Homo sapiens: one gene and its partner. The protein of the gene in region 2 purifies or fractionates together with the protein of the main gene of each other region. This does not show direct contact. Each region holds a gene or a part of one and is shown on either strand. Other genes may lie near its edges.

The links.
Region 1: the proteins of SH2D1A (region 2) and CD84 purify together in Homo sapiens (affinity purification with western blotting; 4 studies listed by BioGRID and IntAct, with this or other methods). This does not show direct contact.

What each region holds. Positions count from the first base shown.
Region 1 is NC_000001.11:160,567,447-160,579,965, forward strand, and holds the start of CD84 (SLAM family member 5 isoform 2 precursor), read right to left. Parts: upstream 12,051-12,519; 5' UTR 11,992-12,050; coding exon 11,946-11,991; intron 3,688-11,945; exon of another isoform or gene 3,493-3,687; intron 1-3,492. UniProt on the Homo sapiens protein: Self-ligand receptor of the signaling lymphocytic activation molecule (SLAM) family.
Region 2 is NC_000023.11:124,348,174-124,360,692, reverse strand, and holds part of SH2D1A (SH2 domain-containing protein 1A), read right to left. Parts: intron 1-12,519.

The DNA of each region.
Region 1 (12,519 bases), on a different chromosome or scaffold from region 2:
TAAGTACAGAAGATACAACAGGGTGGGGAGTATGTGGAGTGGGAGTAGGAAGGGGGAAATTGGGAACCCTTATCTGCAAACATTTATTAACTGCTAATTATGTGTCAGATGCTGTGTTAGGGACACAGGGATAAACAGGACATCGTTGCAGCCCTGAGGAGCTCACAGCCTAGAAAATAAGACAGATGTGGTCACAAGTGAAAGACAATACAACACGATGAGTGCTAAATGGTAAAAGCAATAGAAATAAGCCATTGGGGTAGCGGGTCAGAAAGAGGCTAATGCTGCCTTTGGTGGTAAGAGTCATAGTTTGCCAAAATTTAAGAACATTAATTCTTCCCAGATAAACTGTTTTTCTGGGCTGACGGGTTCTAGGAGAGGGGTATTTGGAGTGTCCCAGCGTGAATCCCTGGATGGTCCAGGCATGGGCATGTGATCTATGCAGTTGCACAGAACCCTGAATTCAAAAGGACCCTGAACTGGACTTAAGGCTGCGTTGCCACCTTTAAATTCTACATACTATTTAAACAAGGGGCCCTCCATTTTCGTTTTGCACTGGGCCTCGCAAATTATCTAGCCAGTCCTGGTCTCAGATCTCCCACGTCTCAAGTCTTTTTTGAAGTCAGGCCCTAGTGCTTAATTGCCACACCACTCTGTGGATTGAGATTAGGTGTGAGGAGAGAGACAGAACATAGATTCCACAGACTCGTAATTTTGCTGGGTTCTCTCACTAAACCCCAGGAAGTATGTAGGTAGATTGTTAAGGCTGAGACCTTCTTAATATTAGGGCCGTTGAGCAGCCACAGTGGTTGGTGTGTGGTGCAGTTTTAAAAGTATGTCTCATCTCCTGTAGCAAGTCATTCAGGAAGTGTTGGTGGGGTATCAAAGAGCAATCAGGCAGTGGGGGTGGTGGGTAGGCAAAGCTGGGGGAAGCTGTTATTTGTGCTGCTGGTGTTGTTGGCAAGAATACTTTGCTTGCTGGAAAAGGCAAAGGGGTTGCACATGTTTAAGATGAAGATTCTGCCACCTTCAAACACTCCAACTGTGCTCTGAGAGAAGCAGCTGCAAAACCATTGCATGCAGTGGAAAGATAGGGAGGCAGAAGGTGTAGGTGCAAGTACTTCTACTTATGAACTGGACAACCTTAACGAGGTCACAAAACCTTTCTTATTTATTTATTTATTTTTAGACAAAGTCTCACTCTCTCACTGTCACCCACGCTGGAGTGCAGTGGAGTGATCTTGGCTCACTGCAACCTCCACCTCCCGGGTTCAGGCAGTTCTCCTGCCTCAGCCACCCAAGTAGCTGGGATTACAGGTGCATGCCATCACGGCTAGCTAGTTTTTGTATTTTTAGTAGAGACGGGGTTTCACCATGTTGGCCAGGCTGATCTTGAACTCCTGACCTCAAATGCTCTGCCCGCCTCAGCCTCCCAAAATGCTGGGATTACAGGTCACAAAACCTTTCTGAACCTCAGTTTCTTCATCCATAGAATGAAAATAATAATTATGCTATTTGTCCTGTTTGGTGAGCAGCAAATGATGTAATATGAGTAGAAATGCTTTGCTGATCATCAAGGTAAAATAAATGTTAGTTATTTCTGGAGTTGATACTGATATATTAACATTCATCGTATGTTCTTTATCATCACTTCAACAATTGGTACATGCCCTTTGGGCCTGCCCTAGGCCACCCTTATGATGGCGTTGGTGATGCCGGGGCCATACTGGAGCATATATCAAAAGCCATTTTTAAGGGCTAATTCAAGTAAAGCCTGGAGGGACAGTTTCAGGTACCCTGGATAGACTTTATTCTGCTCTTAAAAGATTTTAAGATTTAAAAGAAAGAGTGTCCATATCAATCAATCCCAATATTTATTTTTCTGGGTGCTAAAGGGACTCTAACATTATGTTATCACTGGAAGTGACCTTAGTAAAATCTAATTTCAGAGATAACTTGTGGCACAAAAACATCTTGAGGACTTACCATGAAATGCACTATGCTAGTCTATGGCAAAGACAGATTCTCTGCCTTTCGGGGGGAATTTGATACCCGGTTAGGGAAATAAGATACACACACACACACACACACACACGCACGCACGCACGCACGCACACACACAATTCTCCTTTGCAATATGAGATAGTGAATAATAAATTCAAGTGAATGGTAGAAACAGTGATTACGGTAGGAATTCTAAGAAGGGAGGGATTGCTGAGCTGTAGTGGTTAGAAAAAACATCTCAAAGAAAGTAGAATTTGAGGAGGATTTTGAAGGCTGAATAGAATTCTACTTGATGGAAAGGGAAAGGAGGGGTGTCTCAAGTCCTCGGATCCTGAACAAAAGTTTAGAAGCAGAACCTGTGATGTTAATTGGATGAATATAGATTTGCATATCAGAGTGGGGAGAGGTACAGCTGGAGATACAAATTAGGTTTAGATTTGAGACAGCCTTGAGTTTGAGGTCTCCATCAGAGGCAGAGGGGAACTATTAAGGTTTTTGCGAGTGAAGATTAAAATAATGTTTTAGTCATTGTAATGTAGTAATGATGTGTGGGGAGGAAAACAGGAAGGAGAGGCTGCATCAGAGAGGCCATTTAGGGATACTGTAGTCTTCTGGGCATGAACCAGGGGACGATAATGGGAATGGAAAGGAAGGGCTGGATTTGATGATAACACAAAGAAAGGCAAGAAATAAAGAGGCATCTGCTAGAATTCAATTGTTCATCAATATATTTTGAGTTTCTACTTTATGTCATTGAAAAACTCATAAAGTTTATGATGGAAAGAAGTCAAAGGGGGAAGAAAGTTTAGTGTTAGAAATATTAAACTTCAGATGATGGTGGACCATGTAAGTAAGCTCTTGGAATGATGGAAGATAAGGAGAGAGAATGGACTTGAAGTATTATTTGGGGCACTGTGGCAGAATCTGCTAGCTGTTTTCCAATATTTGTTCCCTCCTTCATTCTTATTAATAGAATCACTAATTTTTAGCAGGGCATAGAGCCACCCAGAGTAAAGACTATATTGTCCTGCTTTCTTCTAGCTAACGTTGGTCATATGACTAAGTTCAGCCCAACAGAATAAAAATGGAAGTGTTGTATATGACTTCTGTGTCTTTAAGAAGAGTGGGAACCTGGCATGGTGGCTCACATCTGTAATCCCAACACTTTGGGAGGCCAAGGCAGGTGGATCGCTTGAGTCCAGGAGTGCGAGACCAGCCTGGGTAACATGGCAAAACCCTGTCTCTACAAAAAAGTACAAAATATACCTGGGCATGATGGTGCACACCTGTAGTCCCAGCTGCCCAGGAGGCTGAGATGAGAGGATCACCTGAGCCCAAGGGGGTCAAGGTTGCAGTAAGCCAAGACCACACCACTGCACTCCAGCCTGGGTGACAGAGTGAGACCCTGTCTCAGAAGAAAACCAATAAATAAATAAATACATAAAAAGAGGGAAATTTGCTGTTTTCATCTCTTCCTTGCTTTTGCAGGCCAGAAGGTCATGACAGCTGGATCTTAGACAGACATTCTGAGTCATGAGGAGGAAGCCAAGTTCTGAGGATGGTGGAGCAGGAAGATAGAAGTTGGAACCCCAATGACCTTGTGAACTATTCTACTGACTGTGAACTGCCAACTCCGCACTTTTTTACATGAGCAAGAAATAAACCTCTTTCTTGTTTAAGCCATTCTTATTTTAGTGTCTCTGGTACTTACTGTAACACTGAAATCCAGCGGGTTTAGAGATCATCCACAGAAATGGCGTGGGTGAAGGAGAGGAGGGTCATTCAGGAAGAGTAAGCCTGAAGTCCACGACTGAGCCCTGCGAGAGTGCTCACATTTATAGAAGAGACACCATCAAAAGAAACAGAAGAGACCAAGCAGTAAGAGTGCAAGAGAGGCACCAATAGTGGGCCATATCACAGAGAGGAGAAAGAGTCTCAAGGAGGAGATTGCCACTGATGTCTAATGATTCAGCGTTCAACGGGATAAAGACTGAAAATGGCCCTGGGTTTGCCCGTTACGAGGTTATTGATGGCCTTTGAGAATGTAGTACAAGTAAGACAACTCGATGGAAGGCCAGAGTCTAGGGGACTGACAGAGTAGGTGGTAAAGCATGGAGGAAAAACTTGACAGTGAAAGAAGGGTGATGAGATAGGACAGTAGCTAGAAGGTCAGGTGAAACTAATTTATTTTTGTTTTAAAATAGAAGAGACTGGGGGCTGGGGGGGAGGAGCTAGGGAGGGTAAGCAGAGAGAGATGTCCCCAGTGGGCCTGCTCTAGGTTAGATGCTCCTGCTCATGGCCTCTCTGGAACTCCAGGTTTCCCTCTCATAGCACTTGCCACATTGTGTGGTGGTCATCAATCTGCGTGTCTGTGTTCTGGACACTGTGAATGACTGAGTCCAGGGGCCTTGCCTTAAACCTCTGGTATGCAGAACAGCACAAGATACACAGGCTACTAATGCTTGTCATGGAACAAAAGATGGAAAGGAAAGGGCAGGCAGTGGAAGCTGTAGATTTAAGGAGGGTCACACCCTCACCTGAAGTGGAAAGGGGAAAGGAAAGGATAAGTGAAAGAGCAAAGGTATTTTGAGATGTTATTAAAGACGGTGATAGGAAGAGGCTGCTTGGTGAAGTAGAGTGAGCATAGATTTGAGCCAGGTGGGCTTGTGCTCATGTTCAATCCCTGACATTTGCTGAGGCCCTGATCTTACTTGACTACAAGATGGGCTATAATAATGCCTGCCTTATAGAATTGTTTTGAGGACACATAGAAGGTGCTTAATACACAGTGGACATTTTGGAATAGATAGGATAAAATGGAAGATAGTCATTCTTGGTGGCCTTCATCTCTTCAGTAATGTAGGAGGGGAGACTAACTGGCAACAGTGAGGAGGCAAGAGTGGGACCAGCTAGGAGGTATACAGACTAAAGGTGCAGATTTTGAATCTAGGAATATTTGAACGTAGCTGTGTTATCTTGAGAAAATTATTGAAATTCACTGTTCCTCAGGTGCCTCATCTGTAAAGTGTGGATAATTATTAAATGCAATTGCGAAGATAAAGCACTTAGCACAATGCCTGGCACATATAAATGGTAGTTGCTATTATTTTGGTGAATGTAAAAATTGGGGGGGGGAATGTTACTATAAGGAACACCATAGGGAGTCAACAAGAGATTGATGAAGGGGATCAAGTGTTTGCTAACTACCCTTGAGAGCCCAGTGAAGAAGTGGTAACCCACATTTACAACCTTTTCCAAAGAGTGTGATTTCGTGACCTTCTTATGCCAGAACACAAATGGGAAAGGTAGGAGAAAGGCCATACCTCTAGAGGAGAAGCAAAGGCAAGAAAAGGCTGAAACCCTGGGGTGCAGGCTTAGATGGAAAAACCTGTTCACTGTGACTCTTAGGTAGCTATGGCAAAGAGGGAGCCCAGGACTCAGGGAGCAGGATGACCAGTGTTGAAAGAGATCACTGAGGACTGGTTGCTCACTGGAGGTTGCCTTCCCCTCCTGGATTGGGCTGGGGCACCCTTCCCAATGCAATACACCTTTCTGTGTCTAAGATGATAACCCTGTTTCCCTGGATGATCCTAGGGATATGGATGGATTTTACAAATGTACATTTCATGGTTAGGCAGCTCAAAGCCACTGACTAGAAGAAGACAATAGGGATCGTGAGAAAAAGAAGAATATTTGAAAAAACAAAAAACAAATAGAAAAGAATCAGAAACCCATATATATAGATTGTATAAAGATTGTTGAGGTATGAGGCTTTTAACTCATGAGAGGAAAATTCTTCAAGGCTGGGCAAGCAAAACTTACTGATGTTTTGGGTGGAATCCAAAGTCAAATATGGATGACAATGGAGAGGTTATATAGACCTAAAACCCCATAATTCTCCTTAGATTCTATTAAAAATGAACACAGTGTACCCTTGGAGTCTGGGGAGCTCTCTATTCTCCTTTCATAATCTTAACCATCACTACTAGGCTCTGCCTGATCTTCCCCTACTTCCCTACTCCAACCACATCAGCTCCCTCTGTTCTGTAAACAGGCCAAGGGCACTTTGCCTTAGAGCTTTTGCACCTGTTGTTCTCCTCTTTTCCTACCACACTCTTTTCAGCAGTCCCCCACTTTGTTCAGGGTTTTCTCCCAACATCATCTCATTAGAAAGAGCTTTCCTGGTCACTGTGCCTAAAACAGCAATCCCCACCCCATCCTTCTCTCTTGCCTTGCCTTACTATCCTTCTCTTCACTGCAGTTATCACCACTAAAGCATTGCCTGTGCTTATTTATTGATTGTCTCCCAACCCATCCCCTCAATACACTGCTACTATAATGCAATTATCAAGAATGTGAGTCTTTGTCTGTTTCAATCACTACTGTTCCTCCAAGAACTAGTGGATGATTATTAAATGTTTGTTGAAAAAATGAACACCAGCCTGGGAAACACAATGAGATCCCATCTCTATGAAAAAGAAAATAAAAAAAAATTAGTCAGGCATGGTAATGCATGCCTGTAGTCTCAGCTACTTGGGAGGCTGAGACAGGAGGATCACTTGAGCCTGGGAAGTCAAGGCTGCCATGAACCACGATTGTGCTACTGCCCTCCAGCCTGGGTGACAGGGCAAGACTCTGTCTCAAAACAAAAAACAAAAACAAACAAAAAAAAACAAAGCTTTTTTTTTTTTTGCAACTGACTCAATTAATCTTTTCCAACAATAGAAAAACAAGGCAGAAAATCTCAGCAAGAGAAAGAGTGAAGGCAAGAGAGGACTCTTTACTGATCTCTGGGTCTTGATGTGAAAGGTCAAGTATTTAAACTGATTATTAACAAGAATCAGATGGCTAACTGCAATTTCTTTCTATATTCTATACTGTTTGTGAAGAAAATTTTTTAGATCCACAAAATGGGGACCCACAGCATAGTTAGTAAAAGTGTCCTGAATCAGGGATTAGGAAACATGTTTGAGTCTAGGGTCTGTTGTTGACTAGCTAAATGACCATGAATGTCACTTACTTGCTAAGTCAGAGGGTTCTAGTTGGTAAAAGAAATAAAACAGAGCTGTCCTGCCACTTTGAGGAATTATTAGGATTAAATGACATGAGGGTGCTCTCAAGTGTGTGTACTAATGGAGGAGAGTCTAGTGGTCCTAAGGAGAGCCTTGCCTTGTGGAATCACCTGTATGTCACCATGGGTTAGTCACTGAGGCCTAGCCTGCCTGGGCTAGAATCCTGGCTCTGTCAGGGACTGGCCATGAACCCCAGGGAAAGTCAGTAACCTCTCTGTGCCTCAGTTTCCTCAGCTTTAAAATGAAGGTAATATTAGCACATTGGTGAAGGTAATAGTAGCACAATATTTGACCTCATAAAAATATTATGAGGGTTAAATGAATTGATATTTGTAGACCTCTTAGAATAGTGCCTGGCATATACTAGGCACTATATATGTTTGCTATGTAAAACAAATAAACATCTTCAAAGAGACTAAAATAACACCTCAGACAACTACGAAGGGAAAAATTAGAGTTGGGGTATTGGGGAGATGTTAAAGTCAGCAAGTAGCTATTAATAAGAGTGGAAATGGGGAAGACTGCACAGTTGCTTAACAGACACCTCCACCCCCTTACTTTCTTAGGATCCTCCAGACAAACATTTCTTGTTCTTTTTTTGTGGCACTAGCTAAACTTCCTCTCCTCTTCTCCACCCACTGCCTCCTAGAGTCAAAAAGTGGGGGTGGAACATCGCTGAGTATTGTAGGTCTGGGAGAGTGACCAGAGGTAGCTTTAGCATGTGGTGCCCAAAAGAGAGTCCATTATAACTGCTCACACTGAGTGAAGGGACATAGAGGGGAAGAGGAAGCACAGGGCTGGGCAGGCAGAAATTTTGTGTCATTCTCCAAAGCGACGGAAAGTCCTTGATCATGAGGTTTTAAGAAAAAGGAACCTACTACCCCCATGCAATAGTACATTGTTTTCCCCTGGGAGTTTTACTTTATATCACCTTTATTGGGATTTAGGTTTACTTGAATCAGTTCCTTCAAAACACACACACACACACACACACACACACACAAAATCTCAAAACAGACATGAGATCATAGCCATCCGTTTTAACATTGCTGCCCTCTATTAGCGTGTACTTGAACACTGAGTATAACAAAGGAAACAAGAGTACCTAGTCAGTTCCACCTATATCAGCCCCCAGCTGATTGCTCATACCTCTTTCCAAGTTTCACATAGATGAGCCCAGTGATCTCCAAACTTACAGGTCCATCCCTTTCCTAAGGTCCAAGACAAGAAAGGTTTGATTTAGGAATACTCCAGTAGCCTGAATGGCTTGGCACCGACCATCAGGCTCCTGTTGCGAAGGTGCTCTGGCTGCCTTGTTGGCCTCCATATTGATCTCCAGGACTGCTTCAAGCACTTGGAGCTGACAAGGTAGGCCTCCGCTGCCTTCCACTGAAGGCCTGAGTTATCACAGGGGGAACAGCTTTCCACCCTCTGTTTGGAAGCTGGGTTTTTGATAAGCAGTTTTACCCATATGTAATATATTTCCATTTCTATAACTGGATTTCTGCTTTTGAGCCCTTTTCTGAATGTCTGTGGTAGTCATCTGCTTAAATCTCATTCTAATACAGAGGCCTTGTCCTTATCTTGAAGACCCCTCAATGCAAGGACTTCAGATCAGTGGCAGGTTGTTTTGTCAGCATACTTCCACAGGTATGCTTCCTGTCTCTGAGCCCCAGGATGATGGTTGGGGTCCAGTTACCCATAGTGAGCCCACTCATTTCTTAGAATTTTAGGTCTCAACTGCTGAAATGCCCATGACCATGTTTAACATCCAACAAGACATCAACATCATGCTGATATTGGACTTTTATTTGTTTAAAGAAACTAATTCAAATCACATTTGAATAATATTAAAGTGAACGGTATTTGAAATATGTCTGGAGATGGTTGTTTGCTTGGGTATTCTGCCTCACTGCCCTGCCTAAACTTCCGTTATTGGCAAGGACCTGCCAACAGCTCCTTCCTCCTCTGTGGGTGGGTATAGAGAAAGGCACAGATTCTATCCGAATAATCCTGTCTTGACAGAAATAAATAAATCATCACTCTTTACTGACATATTCCCAAACATTAATAGTAGGGAGAGTAATTTACTCCACTTCAGCATCAATGTGGGTGGAGGCAGCATGACTCAGAGGTGAAGTCTAAGGACTCTGAAGCTTAAATTCTACTTCTTTCACTTTTTGGTTAAGTGGCCTTTGACTCTCTGTGTATCAATGCTTTCATCTGTATATGTGCACATAAACCGTATCTATCTCATAGTGTATTGTAAGGATTAAACAAAATAATAACTGTAGACTACTTAGAGTAATGCTGAATATGCAGTGATTGCTCCATAAATGGTTACTTATTACTATTATTGATGGGAGATAAGACAGGGAGTTGAAGAAATAGAAATACGAATGGGGCAGAGAAAAGGAAGAATTAAGAGTATGAGACAGTATATGTAGAGGGGGTGGGCAAGGATTAAAACTGGTGGACTCCTTCATCTCCTACCCTCAGAGTGGGAGTGTCTCCCAGGGTATGTGGAGAGACAGTCAGAGTCATGGTGTTTCCAAAGTCATGATCAGAAAGTTGGCATCAGAGCATAAGACTGTGAATTTTGACTCAGAGAAAACTTTTCCAACATGGAACAGTCATAAGTTTGCACACTCAGACTTTCCTTATGTCGGTGATTTCTGAGGGGAAATGGGGATTTCTCCCTGCATCTCTCCACTGCTTCTCAGCCTCTTCAACTGCTCTGAATTCCAGGGAAATGTGTAAAGTGTAGACTCCTAAGCCCAATACTGAATGTAAGGGACTACCTCTACCAGGAACAGCAGCAGGAGGAATTCATGGTATATTTTTGTGCTCAGAAAAGGTTTGCAGAATAATCCTTAAGAGGCAAACAGATAATTCAGTAAAGGTGGACAGTATGTAAAAAGTACTCCTGGCTTCACTTTTATAAAAACAAGCTCCCATTCCCCTTTCATGGATCCTTGATGAAATGAATATCTCACTCCTAGTTTCCTTTTCCAGAACCCAGACAACCAACACCTAAGCTCAAACTCCCACCACCTTTTCTCCTGTTTATGTTCCTTGGACAATTCCCTGACAGAGGAGTCCTGCCCAGGATCTCTGTGTGGTAAAGCCATGGCTCTTCCTAATAATGAATGAAAAGCGAGTGTGAAAAATAGTAGCATTAGCTGATATCTGTTAAACACTTACTATATTCAGGTACCATGGCAAGTGTTGTACATGCATTATCATCATTTTGATTCTCAAAACAATTCTACTGTATTAATACCTCCCCATTTTGAAGCTGAAACAAGAGTCAGAGGAGGAATGTAACTTCGTCTAGGTCACAAAACTTGTAAACAATTCACTACTAGCTGATTTGACAACTTTATTTCAGTTTCAGTAGATGAAAGAAGTGTATCCTAGAGCTACCTTTTATCTTAGCAGGTATTAACCTTTTGAAGAGCATCAAAAATTTGAAAGCAATGAGTGAAGAGGTCAGGTGGAGCAGAAAGAAGAACCAATGGGATTGGGATTAACCTTGGAATTAGAAAAACCAATGTCTATTTCCAGCTCTACCAATTTAGGTAGTGAAATTTCAGGTGAATTTTTAAACCCCTAAATCTTAATTTATTATTTTTCTTGCATAATGGGATTAATAACGTCTATCTTGCTCATCTCAATGGTTTTCATATGGATGACATAAGAATGTAGGCATAAACATTGTAGAATGTTTTGCAAATTAAGTGGTATCAAATGCTACCTTGTCTGGTCTCTCTCTGGAAGATTAGGGACATCCCTAGTACCATTCCTCATCTACTTGCATTTTCTGTCTGCCATTCTAGAGCGACCAGCAGAGGCTCCAAAAATTTGGTCTGACTAGTGGTTACAATCTCCATGAAGTTCAAATTAAAGGAGCCATAGCTTGAAATGGCCAAAGAAACCAGAGAGATCACAGTGCATTGATTCTACCTTTACAGAAAATCCAAACGTACTAGGTTCCCAGGGTTCTAACTCATGCCAGAATTCTGCTAGTGCATTTTCAGAACTGGCAAGAGATACTAGAAGTAGATCTAGAAGTTCCAAACATAGTAAATTTCTGTTAGAGCAATTGTTTGTATTTAAGGAGATAACATGTACAATGACACAGCACTCCCAGATCTATGTTAATGTTACAATTTTCTTTGTACAAATAACAATCAATATTCATGTCGTTCTTTTAGTTTACTGTTATGCCATAAGTAAGAAAAATAGGGTTTTTAATTCAAGTTCTCCAACTCTTTTTTGAGACTATTTGTAAAAAATGGGATAGTAATCTCTTCCTCATTTATTTTAGAGTTTGTTGAGGATAAAAGCAGAGTAATAGCTCTGTGTTTTGAAAATAAAGGGAGTTTATAGAGATGAGGCTCAACAATGATAACGATGAGTCATCCATCACTCTAACCTGATAGAACAATCAACTATAATTAGGAAAGACATTTTTCTCTCTCAAACGCCATCACAATTGAATGCCAAGAAGAAATTGCTTGTAAGTCATTCAAGCTTTTAGAAGATCTTTCTTTTGCCAGGCTTTTTGGGTGGGTTTACCAAGTGCTGATTCCTCTGAGAAGGATTTGCCTCAGACCTTTGGAAACTGAGATCTCCAGATCTCAGAAATATAACTCAGTAATATAAACTTTAAAGCTGAACCTAAACACTTAGGTTTGAATTTTAAGTCTCTCCCCAGCCAGTTGGATCCTGTTGAGTACAGTAGATACTGAGACCCAGGGTGTTCTGCTAAACACAGATCAAAAAGACAGTTCAATGTCTTCCTTAAGGGCAATTTTTAAAACTTTATGGAAAACTAGGAGGCGATCAGCAAGGGTCAGAACTCACAGGTTTGCAGGCAAAGGAGCAAGATCCATAGGTGGTGCTGAGCCATCTCTTTCAGGGTCTAACCTTCTGTGGAAAAGCACGGCACTGTTCTAGCAGAGTCAGTTTCACTTGAGTTTTCTTCCTCCTTTTTATAACGACATTTAAGAAAGGAAGTGCATGTTAACTGATTTAGTTAACATTGGTCTTTGTATTACTGTGCTAGTTTTTTCCAATTTAAAGTGCCTAGCATTAATTATTTATTCAACACATATTTATTGTGTGCCTACTATGTGCCAGGCCCTCTTCTGGGTGCTGGCAATATACAGAGCAACAAAACAATTGATCACCCTCCTTTCATGGCATTTATACTCTTTTTTGGAGTAATCAACAACTCTATAAGCAGTTCCAATTTAATGTAGTAAGCATTGCAATAGGAAAAATACAGGGAACTATGAGAGGAATAGGGGCATCTAACTCAGGCTAAGAAAAGTTGGAGTAGGCTTCCTAAAGAAACTGACAACCAACCTGAGACAGGCTCAAAGAATGAATTACCATTATTAGGCGAATGGCGGTGGGGGATATGAAAGAGGAAAAA
Region 2 (12,519 bases):
AAATTTTCTGATTGCTATTCTTGGGCACAAGTTTGGGTCAATAGAGATCTTTTGGTTAGGACACATGCTTTTTTTTTTTTTTTTTTTTTTTTAATGGTGTCTTGCTCTGTCACCCAGGCTGGAGTACAGTAGGGTGATCATAGCTTACTGCAGCCTTGCCCTCCTGCCTTAGCCTCCTGAGTAGCTGCCACTACAGTTGCACACTGCTGTGCCTAGCTAATTTTTTTTTTTTTTTTTTTTTTTTTTTAGTTTTTGCAGAGACAGGGTCTTGCTCTGTTGACCACGACGGTCTTGAACTCCTGGCCTCAAGCTATCCTCCCACCTAGGCCTCCCAAAGTAGTAGGATTACAGGTGTGAGCCACCACACCTAGCCAGGACATGCACTGAACTCTGGTTAAAATCAATGTGTTTACAAGCAGAGTGTCATGCTTGACTTGATGATCACATTTACCATTAACCTCCTTTGGAAATAAAAGTATTTAAATATGTGAATTAAATTAGGCTCACGCCTGTAATCCCAGCACTTTGGGTGGCTGAGGTGGGCAGATCACCTGAGGTCAGGAGTTCGAGACTAGCCTGGCCAACATGGTGAAACCCCATTTCTACTAAAAATACAAAAATTAGCCTAGCGTGGTGGTGGGCACCTGTAATCCCAGCTACTCGGGAGGCTGGAGCAGGAGAATCACTTGAACCTAGGAGGTAGAGGTTACGGTGCGCTGAGATCGCACCATTGCACTCCAGCCTGGGCGACAAGAGTGAGACTCCATCTAAAAAAAAAAATTACTATATCTTTCATCAATATGCATCAGAACTGATTACCTAAAGGGCCAAAACAAATCTGAAACACACTATTCAGATTTACTTGATTCGTGACACTGAACAAAAGGTCAATTTAACTACTGATGTGGATTATATGATGTTTTATTTTTTACGAAGGATTGCCAGAATATTTAGATCATATATAAAATAGCTTGATATATGCCTATATATAATATGCTGAATAAATATACAATATTACAATGTTAAAGTCTTTTGTCTTTTTAAACACTTGAAATCTACCTCAAAGCCCACTAACTTCAGCAAGTACTCTATGGGGAACAAGGCAAGAGCTTTGATTTCCATTTTTCACCATGGGAACTCAACATAAGCCTTTAAGTGATTTTCTTAAAGCCACATAGCAAAATGGAGATGGAAGCAGTGAAACAGCATAGGTTCTTAGTTCCATTTTCCCTATGAGAAATGATTAATGGCAATAATTCAGTATCATAAGGGTGATGTGGAGATTCATTATTTAAAATCTCAGCAACAAGATAAGCAGAATGGTAAGCAACAAGTTTTCCACTTTCTAAAACAGTGGGTCTCTAAAAAATACAATGACTCTATCTCCCTACTATCATTCAGACGCATTTAGTCAAAGTAAATGAGTCTGTTTTGAGAATTGTTTCCTAACGAATCTGATCTTATCTCACTTTCAGTTAAGTAGCAGGAACCTGAGTACCACTTCAAAACTTCGTACCTCCTTCAGTCTCTGAACAACCTGGTGTGAATGGTACATAAAACTTCTCATGATTAACTCATCTAATATTAACAATTTCCTTCTCCCCACAACCCCTCCAATTTCTGAATGAGCAAAATTGTTTCACCCCTCAAATAGGCCAGCAGTTTATATCTTTCACTTTCAAGTTACTGAAGTAACTGACCAAGGATCCCCTGTAGTCAACTCTTACTATAATATGTCATACAAGGAAGAGATCTAAAACAGTGCAACTCAAATTGCATTCCCAGGACAACAGCATCAACATCACCTGGGAGCTTGTTAGAAATGTAGACTTCCAGGCCCCACCCAGACCTGTTAAATCAGAATCTGGATTTTAGTAAGATGCCCAGGTGATTTGTATGAACATTAAAGTTACAGAAGGACTGATTAAAATGTAAAGCGAATGCCCACATCTCATTGGGAATATTGATGGCAACTTCCCTGTTGTCAACCTGGCTTCTTCCACCTGCCCAGGGCAGTTCTGTGCCACCTCCTCCGTAGTCATTCAGTCTATGCTTTAAGAATGCAATTTTATTTTAGTATAAGCTGAAGGTTTGTCAATCATTTCAGTCTTCACAGGACAGTGTTTCTGAACCATTTTTTCCTTTCTTCCCCAATAATATTTCTTAGTTTTATTTTCTATAGCTTCTATTATAAACCAGTAATTTTGTAACATAAAATTAAACTAAAATATTGAATATGCCTTTTCAAACAAAACATACTCTGTCCCTGTCCATGGAAAATCGCTATTCAAACTGGCAAGTTATATAACGAGACCTATAAAACCATACATATTTTTGACTGCATAACCTTGCTTATCTTCATACACTCCAAGGAAACAAGTCAAGAGGAAAACGCAATTTGACAAAGATTTTCATACTAGCCCTATTTTAATAGTGAAAAAAATGGAACTAACCTAAGCACCCCTAAATAAGGAATAATTGCTCAAAATAAGGGAATTGTTTTTGGGTATAACCCCAAAAGCACAGACATCAAAAGCAGAAATAGATAAATGGGATTACAACAAACTAAAAAGCTTCTGAACAGCAAAGGAAACAACAGAGTGAAGAGACAACCTACAGAATGGGAGAATATATTTGCAAACCATACATATGATAAGGAGTTAATATCCAAAATATATAAGAGACTCAAATTACTCAATAGAAAGAAAACAAATAATCCCATTTAAAAATGGGCAAAGGCAGCTACTCGGGAGTCTGAGGCAGGAGAATGGCATGAACCTGGGAGGTGGAGTTTGCAGCGAGCCAAGATCGCGCCACTGCACTCCAGCCTGGGCGACAGACCGAGACACCATTGCAAAAAAAATAAAATAAAATAAAAATGGGCAAAGGACCAGAATAGACATTTCTCAAAAGAAAATATACAAATGACCAACAGGTATGTGAAAAAATGCTCAACCTCACTAATCATCAGAAAAATGCAAATGAAACCACAATGAGATATCATTTCACACCTGTTAGGATGGTTATTATCAAAAACAAGACAACAAGAGAGGATGCAGAGAGAAGGGAACCCTTGCACACTGTTGGTGGGAATATAAATTAGTACAGCCATTATAAAAAACGGTATGAAAGTTCTTCAAAAAATTAAAGATAGAACCACCATATGATCCAGCAATCCCACTGCTGGGTATATATCAAAAGGAAATGAAATCATCATGTCAAGGAGAAATCTGCACTTTCATGTATATTGCAGCATTATTCACAATAGCCAAGACATAATGCAATCAACCTACATGTCTATCAACAGATGAATGGATAAAGAAAATATGTTGTATATACACAATGGAATACTATTCAGCCTTAAACACAAAGGAAATCTTGTCATTTGCAACAACATGGATGAATATGGAGGACAGTTTGTAAAGTGAAATAAGCTATGCGCAGAGAAACAAATACCGCGTAGTTTCAGTTATACATGGGATCTTAAAAAGTTGAACTAATACAAGCCAAGAGTAGAATGGTGGGTGGCTACCAGGGGCTCGTAGGGGCGTGCAGGGTGGGGATTGGGAAATTTGGGTCAAAGGATAAAAGATTTAGGTTAGGAGGAAAAAGTTCAAGAGATCTATTGTACAACGTGGCAACTATAGTTAAAAACAATGTATTGTATTCTTGAAAGTTGCTAAGAGAGTAGATTTTAAGTGTTCTCATCACAAAATGTAAGTATGTGAGGTAATGCATATGCTAATTATCCCAATTTAGCTATTACACATGTATACATATTTCAAAGCATCATGTCATACACAATACATATATACAATTTTGCCAGTTTAGAAATAAATATATAAATTAGGGAAAAATAAAGGAATTATAGCAGAAACAATGGTTCAAAATTACACTTTCTATGTCAAAGGTGAAGGTTTACAATGTTAATGCTGGCTGGGCACGATGGCTCACGCCTGTAATCCCAGCACTCTGGGAGGCTGAAGTGGGTGGATCACAAGGTCAGGAGTTCGAGACCAGCCTGGCCAACATGGTGAAACCCTGTCTCTACTAAAAATACAAAACAAACAAACAAAAAACTGCTGGGTGTGGTGGCACGCACCTGTAATCCCAGCCACACAGGAGGCTGAGGCAGGAGAATCGCTTGAGCCTGGAAGGCAGGGGTTGCAGTGAGCTGAGATCACACCACTGCACTCCAGGCTGGGCGACAGAGAGAGACTCCGTCTCAAAAAATATAAATAAATAAATAAACAAATAAAATCTTATGCCAAAATTCAAAAATGTTAGAGTCTTAGGTTTTCCAGAAAACTTTAAGTATGTGGACTATGTTGACATAAAATGATAGCATGTGTAATAGCAAAGACTTGGAACCAACCCAAATGTCCATCAATGATAGACTGGATTAAGAAAATGTGGCACATATACACCATGGAATACTATGCAGCCATAAAAAAGGATGAGTTCATGTCCTTTGTAGGGACATGGATGAAGCTGGAAACGATCATTCTCAGCAAACTATCGCAAGGACAGAAAACCAAACACTGCATGTTCTCACTCATAGGTGGGAATTGAACAATTAGAACACTTGGACACAGGAAGGGGAACATCACACACTGGGGCCTGTCCTGGGGTGGGGGGAGGGATAGCATTAGGAGATATACCTAATGTAAATGATGAGTTAATGGGTGCAGCACACCAACATGGCACATGTATACATATGTAACAAACCTGCACGTTGTGCACATGTACCCTAGAACTTAAAGTATTAAAAAAAACACACACAAAACAAAAAATAAAAATAAAAAAATAAAATGACAGTATGTGTAAAAAGTGGGCACAAGGGGATGCCACTCTGATTACAACTATTCAAAACTGTCTGTCCCTGTGTGTATATAAACTAGAAGTAAATTTAAACTAACGTAAATGCATTCTTGCATGTTATTTTTTCATGTAGTTATTTAAGTGACTAATTTTTTAAGAAAAACAAGCAGAATTACAATTTGGAGCCTTACAAACCTAGCCTAAGCAAATCACAACTCATAAAAATGTAATTCATTTTTTTAAATTGTTACATCCCCTTCAGGATTATATTTCCTCTGACTCCCTCCCTTAATACAGACAAACCAGCAATGTAGTGTACTTTTAACTTCCTTCCCTCATTAAAGCTTTTTTGGACTTTTTGATAATCCTAGAGTTTAAAATGTATCACCAAAAAAATCAGAACATGAATAATTGTTAAAGAACGGTGGAGTTTTATCATTGCCTTTAATTTATTTTAATTACTATAAAGCATGTGTTAATCTAGTCTCTGCTGATATTGAAATTTGTCTTTATTTCATCAAAAGTTGTCCCTAACTGTAAAAAAGTGTCCAGGTTAGAAATGGACAAGAAGCAAGAAGCAACCAACCTGACTTATTTCTTATTTTCTCAGTGGGTCAGTGTTGGGGACAGATCCTGGTTTAGAACTGACAAATCCACATCAATTCCTTTTTTATACCACGTCAAGTACTACACAAAAGAAAACATTTAGCTACATCTGACTTCTTCATGACATTTCAAATAAAGCAAGCCAGTACCTATGCCCTCTACGTCTATACGAACTAATGCTACATACAAAATTCAAGACACAACTATAATGATTTTTAACAAACGTTTCAGAACTTTTATATCCAGAGGAATAGTATCCTACACAAAGCCATTATTTTTGAGACTATACTCTGATTCAAGAGCTTTCCAAACTTACAATGGCCCAAACTTTATTCTTTCAGAGAGAATTTTAATTTTTGAAACAGTTGAAAGTCATTCAACTTCAAGTGTGATGGTAAAACTATGTGATATTTTGATGAGTCATGAAAATAAATATAACCACTTCTTCCCCTGAACTTCCATATCAAGTTTTATTTACGTATACTTATGATGTTCTAACTTTGTATTACAATTATTTATAGAGCTTTTATTCATATTAAAAAACACATATTACATGTTAACTTTACAAATATTAACTCATGTCATAATCATCATAACAACCCTGTGAGGTAAGTACTCTCATTATCACCATCTGCCGTTTTACAGGTAAGAAACCTGAGACACAGAAAGTTAAAGTAACCTGCCCAAGGGAAAATAGCTAGTTAAGGGTCAGAGCTGGGATGCACACCCAGAGATCTGGCTGGAAGATCTGGGCTCTTAACCACCATTCTGTGCTGCCCCTCTCTTATACTAGAGGGAATGTATTAACAAATTGGTCTTTAAGACAATTCCAAAAGCACAATTCTCAAAAAGGGAGGGAATCTGCTTGGACATGGAGCTAGAACTGTCCACTGAGAGAAGGAGGGCAGTGGAGGGAGCTGAAGGGAAGAGGCCAGGTGGGGAGAGCCCGAAAGAGATCAACCCAGACTCCCCCTTTGCTTAAGCTAAATGACATCTTCAGGCTAATCTTGCAACTTTAATTTTACATTGTCAACCAGAGTCAGTACTTGGCTTATTTGCCGTGAATTATCCATTCGGTGGTTTATATGTGGCAAACAATCCTAGGCTGGCTTTCAGGCTCACTTTACCACTGGATTGTATTCAGGAAATTGAAAATAATGTTGGTGGCCTAAGTTATCATGAAGATAAATGTGGCACCAAGGCACATATCCAATTGAATTCAAAAACTAAATGCAAGTTGTAATTTCTCACTAAATGAAGTTAAGTTATAATTTCAAGTTCTTTGCCACACTGTTCCCCTTTATTGCAACTGATAAACTGGAATTTTATTTCATCACTGCTCCTCCCCCATTTCTCCAGTTCAGTTGTTTGACAGGCACTTTATTCCCAGTTGTCCCTTTAAAACTTAAAGGACAAAAAGATAATTATGCATTTATCTAAAGACATACATGTCAAATGACTTCATTATGTGTCCTTGAAGCTAAAGAATTATAACAGCATTTCTTCTTCCAAATCTTCCATCAGATAAGTAGCAAACAAAGGCAGATATGTCCAGAAGGATGCCAACTATGGAAATAAACTATTTTTTGAGCTAATTATTTTAAATATTTTAAATTAGTTCTCGTCTTATCACCATCAATCCCACTGGGCAGTCAGAACTTTCCCAATGGCTGTCTACATTGAGGGTGAGAAGGGAAGAAATGTGAGAGAACATATGTACCTCAGTGAAAAGAAACTTGATGTATCTAAAAAAAACAAAGGGAATAAACTTAAAAAAAAAACTATCTGCATTAATAAGAGCATTCAGTACACTGGATAAATACAAGAACAGAACATAAAATCAGTAGCTTTCCTATGAAACAGAAAATATAGTGGAAACAGATCCCATTTATGATTTTTAAAAATCAGCATACACATTCATACACACAATAACTCGAAATAACAAAAAATGTATAAGACATACAAAAAGAAAACTATAAAACTTGATTGATGGATATAAACAAAAAAATTATAAATGGAGAGACTTATGTTATGGGAAGGGAAGACTAAATTATTTAAAGATGACAATTCATTCTTAGTTTATTAATAAATTTAATGTAACCCCAATGGTGTTTTCAAAAAAATTTTTGATACATAATAATTGTACATATTCATGGGGTACAGTGTGATGTTTCAACACATGTATGCATTGTAATAATCAAATCAGGGGATTTGAATATTTAGGATATTTATCACCTCAAACATTTATCATTTCTATATGTAAGAACATTTCAAGTACTCTCTTCTAGCTATTTCAAAATACATAAGATATTGTTAACTATAGTCACCGTACTGTGCGACTGAACACTAGAACCTATTTCTTCTATCTAACTGTCTGTTTGTACCCATTAGCCAACCTCTCTTCATCGCCTTCCACCCTTCCCAACCTCTGGTAACTATCATTTTACTCTCTATCTCCATATGATTGAGGAATCCCACTACAGGGTATCTATCAAAAGGAAAGGAAATCAATATATCAAAGGGATACTTGCGCCCATACATTTATCACAGTACTATTTACAGTAGCCAAGATATAGAAGAGTCCAGCAACAGATGAATGGATAAAGAAAATGTGCTATGCATATACAATTGAATACTATCTGGCCATTAAAAAGAATGAAATCCTGTTATTTGCAGAAATGTAAATAGAACTGGAAGTCATTATGTGAAGTGAAATAAGCCAGGCACAGAAAGACAAATATCATGTGTTCTCACTGGCATGTGAGAGCTAAAACATTTGGTCCAATGAATTTTTTTTAACTTAATAAAATGATTCTAGATTTCATTTTGAAGAACCAACAGATAAGAATAGCAAATAATTTTTAAAATATATTAAAACATTATCATACTATAGTGCTATCAGTGCAAGAATAAATGGATCAATTGAGACAAATAGATAGTCCAGAAACAGTAACTGTTATATATAAGAATTTAATATATGGTAAAGTCGGCTAGCAAATCAATGAAGAATGGAAGTTGTATTTATAAATTATATTAGGACAATTGCTAGCTATCTGGAAACAAAATCAAATTAGATCTTTTATCCACATCAAAATACAACTCCAAATGGAATTAAAGAGGTAAATGTAAACTAACAAAACCGTAATTTAAAACAAAAACTGCAGTGAAGTTTTATGACATATCTCAAGGGGAAAGGACTTTCTAGCCAAGGAAGAAATCAAACACAAAGAAAACGAGTGACGTATTTGACTACTAAAAAGTTTGATTTTTGTATGTGTCAAAAAAAGTAAGGGCAAACACCAAACTTAGAAAACATACCTTGCAACAGATCAAGGATTAGTATATATATAAATTTACAATGTGTTAAAAAAGTTTGATTTTTGTATGTGTCAAAAAAGTAAGGGCAAACACCAAACTTCGAAAGGATACCTTGCAATAGATCAAGGATTAGTGCACATATATATATATACACATAGAGTGTGTTTAAAAAAAGTATGATTCAACTGGTTAAATGAGAAAAATACACAAAAAGCCAAATCATGGGAGGAAATACAACAGCTTAACAACCATATAAAATGACAGTCACTAACCAAAGGAATATAAAATGTGGAAAATAAAGAGATAGAGTGTAAATATAAAATAAAGAATAACAGGCCAAATGTCAAGGGAAAATTTTCTTAACTACAATACCCACTTCTAGTGAGGGTGTGGTGAAATGGACACTGATGCATTACAGGTGAGCATGTAAATTGGAATAACCATTTAGGGAAAATATCTCATGATCATGTATATATCAAGAATCCTAAGCTGTTTATGTTTTCTGACCTAGAAATTCCACACTGGAAATTCATTCTAAGGAAATAATCATAAATGCAAGGAAACTTTAATGTACTGAAATATACATCCTGATGGAATTTATAATAACAAAAATATGGAATGAGTCAAATGTCTAAAAGTAGGTGACTGGCTAAGCAAAATATGGTATACTTACTAGCTAGCTGGACTACCATGCAGCCATTAAAAATAACATCTTAAAGTTGTCTCTAAGAACATTACATATGAGTGTATTTTTTTCATATTAAGTGGGAAATGGGAAACGTATACAATTGTAAGAATACAAGAACACAATCATATTTTTAACACATGTAAATTTATATATAAATATATATAAATATATATTTATAATAATATATATAAAAATATATATTTATAATAATATATATAAAATATATATATTTATAATAATATATAAAAATATACATATTTATAATATATATATAATATATTATATCTTATATACAATATATAATATATTATATCTTATATACAATATATAATATATCTTATATACAATATATAATATATTATATCTTATATACAATATATAATATATTATATCTTATATACAATATATAATATATTATATCTTATATACAATATATAATATATTATATCTTATATACAATATATAATATATTATATCTTATATACAATATATAATATATTATATCTTATATACAATATATAATATATTATATCTTATATACAATATATAATATATTATCTTATATACAATATATAATATATTATATCTTATATACAATATATAATATATTATATCTTATATACAATATATAATATATTATCTTATATACAATATATAATATATTCTATATTATACTATATAATATAGTATATAATATACTATATATAATATAGTATATATTATATATTATATATAGTATATAATATATATTTATATATTATATATAGTATATAATATATATTTATATATTATATATAGTATATAATATATATTTATATATTATATATAGTATATAATATATATTTATATATTATATATAGTATATAATATATATTTATATATTATATATTATATAATATTATATATAATATATATTTATATATTATATATTATATAATATTATATATAATATATATTTATATATTATATATTATATAATATTATATATAATATATATTTATATATTATATATTATATAATATTATATAATATATATTTATATATTATATATTTTATATTATATATTTATATATTATATATATTAGATATTTATATATATATAAATATATAACATTTGGTGTTTGCCCTTACTTTTTTTGACGCATACAAAAATCAAACTTTTTAGTAGTCAAATACGTCACTCGTAAGAATACAATTGTAAGAGCACACGTGCTCAAAAAGCAATTCATCTTATTAAAATATAGAAGAAAATTCACCTAATTTTTAGCAATAGTCATCTTTAGGTTATAAAACTATAGATGATTTTTCTCTAATTTCTATTATCTATATGTTTCAAATTTTCTATAATGAATAGGTATAAGGAACTATTTTTAATAGACTTATACAAAAATCTATATTTATTTAGAGAAAGTAATTGAAAGAAATACTTATTACTTAAAATGAAGGTGAGCAATCCTATAAATGGAAAACTCCTTTAGTGCTTTATGAAGCAGTTCAATTTTCGATTTTCTAAATCAGAACAGAAGAAAAGGCCATATCTGAAAGCCATGATTAGGAGGTTCAGAACTGGGGAAAAGGGCAAGCATCGTTTGAAAGTACAGTTTAAAGTACAGTTTGAAGGCATATGAAATGTATTATCTCTACAATAAAAATATAAAAACTATAGCTCAATTAAATCTTCTTGGTTAATAGGAGTAAACAAAAGATAGAATGAGAAACCATTCTGAGTAAACCCTACAATCAATGCATGTTTGTCAGCTATACCTTGTTGTCCATGTGTATATGATACCACTTATATTGTTATTTCGACTGCATATCATAAGTGTTCTGGTTTAAAATGAGTACGTGGTTTATTTCTAAATAAAATCTGATTTTATAATTACAGTGTAGCACCAAAAAGAGGGAATGAAATTTTTACATTTATCAAAAGGGACACTCAACTCAAAAACATTGAGAAACTGATAAAAGGCAATGTATCCTCATATCTTCCCTCTGCAGCACATTCTGGCTATCACCCTAACAGTCACATAAGACTTTGAGGCCCCAGTGTACCATTTGAAAGACACCGTAAGGGAACTCCCAATTTGTCTAGTATTTTCCGCTACTTCACAAGGAGGTTTTCATGGAGAACTAAGAGTCATAAAAACTGCATTTATGCAAGATTCACTTTGGGCGAAAACTTAAATGCTTGATAATTTCTCACCTGCCTAAGTTAATTCCTCATGTGGTTCCGGCCTACATAGGCAAAAGTCTAAAGCTGCCCTTCTCTCTTGCATAAGGTACTTAAGGCAATCTTTTGCAGAAGGTAGGATACACATTACTATTCCTGTTTTATAAATATGGAAACTGAGTCCCAGAGAATTTGAGTGACTTTCCCAGAGTCCATACCCTAACCTCTCAATGGCCATTCCGTTTATTGCAGTAAAGAACAGAATTTGCCTTGACAGTTTGTTAATTCAAAAATATCTGCTGAGTGCCTATTATGTGTTCCTGTGTTTCTGGTGATGGAGACAGTATCTCCGCCCTCATGGAGATTATATTTTTGCAGGACAGCCCAGCAATAAGTAGGTAAACAAGCAAATTATCAGATAGTTTAAAGCTCTTTGAAGAAAAATAAAGAGATGGAGTGAGTGTATCAGGGACAGGGAGAGGGCACTTGTTCTAGATAGGTGGTCAAGCAAGTCCTCTCTGAGGGAGGAGACAGTTGAACAAACATGTGAACTGAAGGTATTTTGGGCAGAAGGAACAATAAGCGCAGAAATCCTAAGTGGGGGCATTTTTGAGGAGCTTGAGAAACGGCCAGGAGCCCCGTGAGGCTGAAGCCTTAGGTATATCTTGCCTCTCACTATACCCTGTTGTCCCTCCCCTGCCCAGACTTGTTTTGTACATTCTTTTTCACCTTTGGGTTAAGGAGCATGTTATCTCCTTTGTCAGCTTCCCTAAAGCAGCGCCTTTCACCCACCCACTCACTCCACCTTCTTTCAATGAGAAAAGAGCCTAAGAATCCTAGCTGGTTTTCATTGCCCTTCCCTAGGTTCCACACGGGAACAATAATTATATAAGCAAAACATAAAGATTCAAGCCCA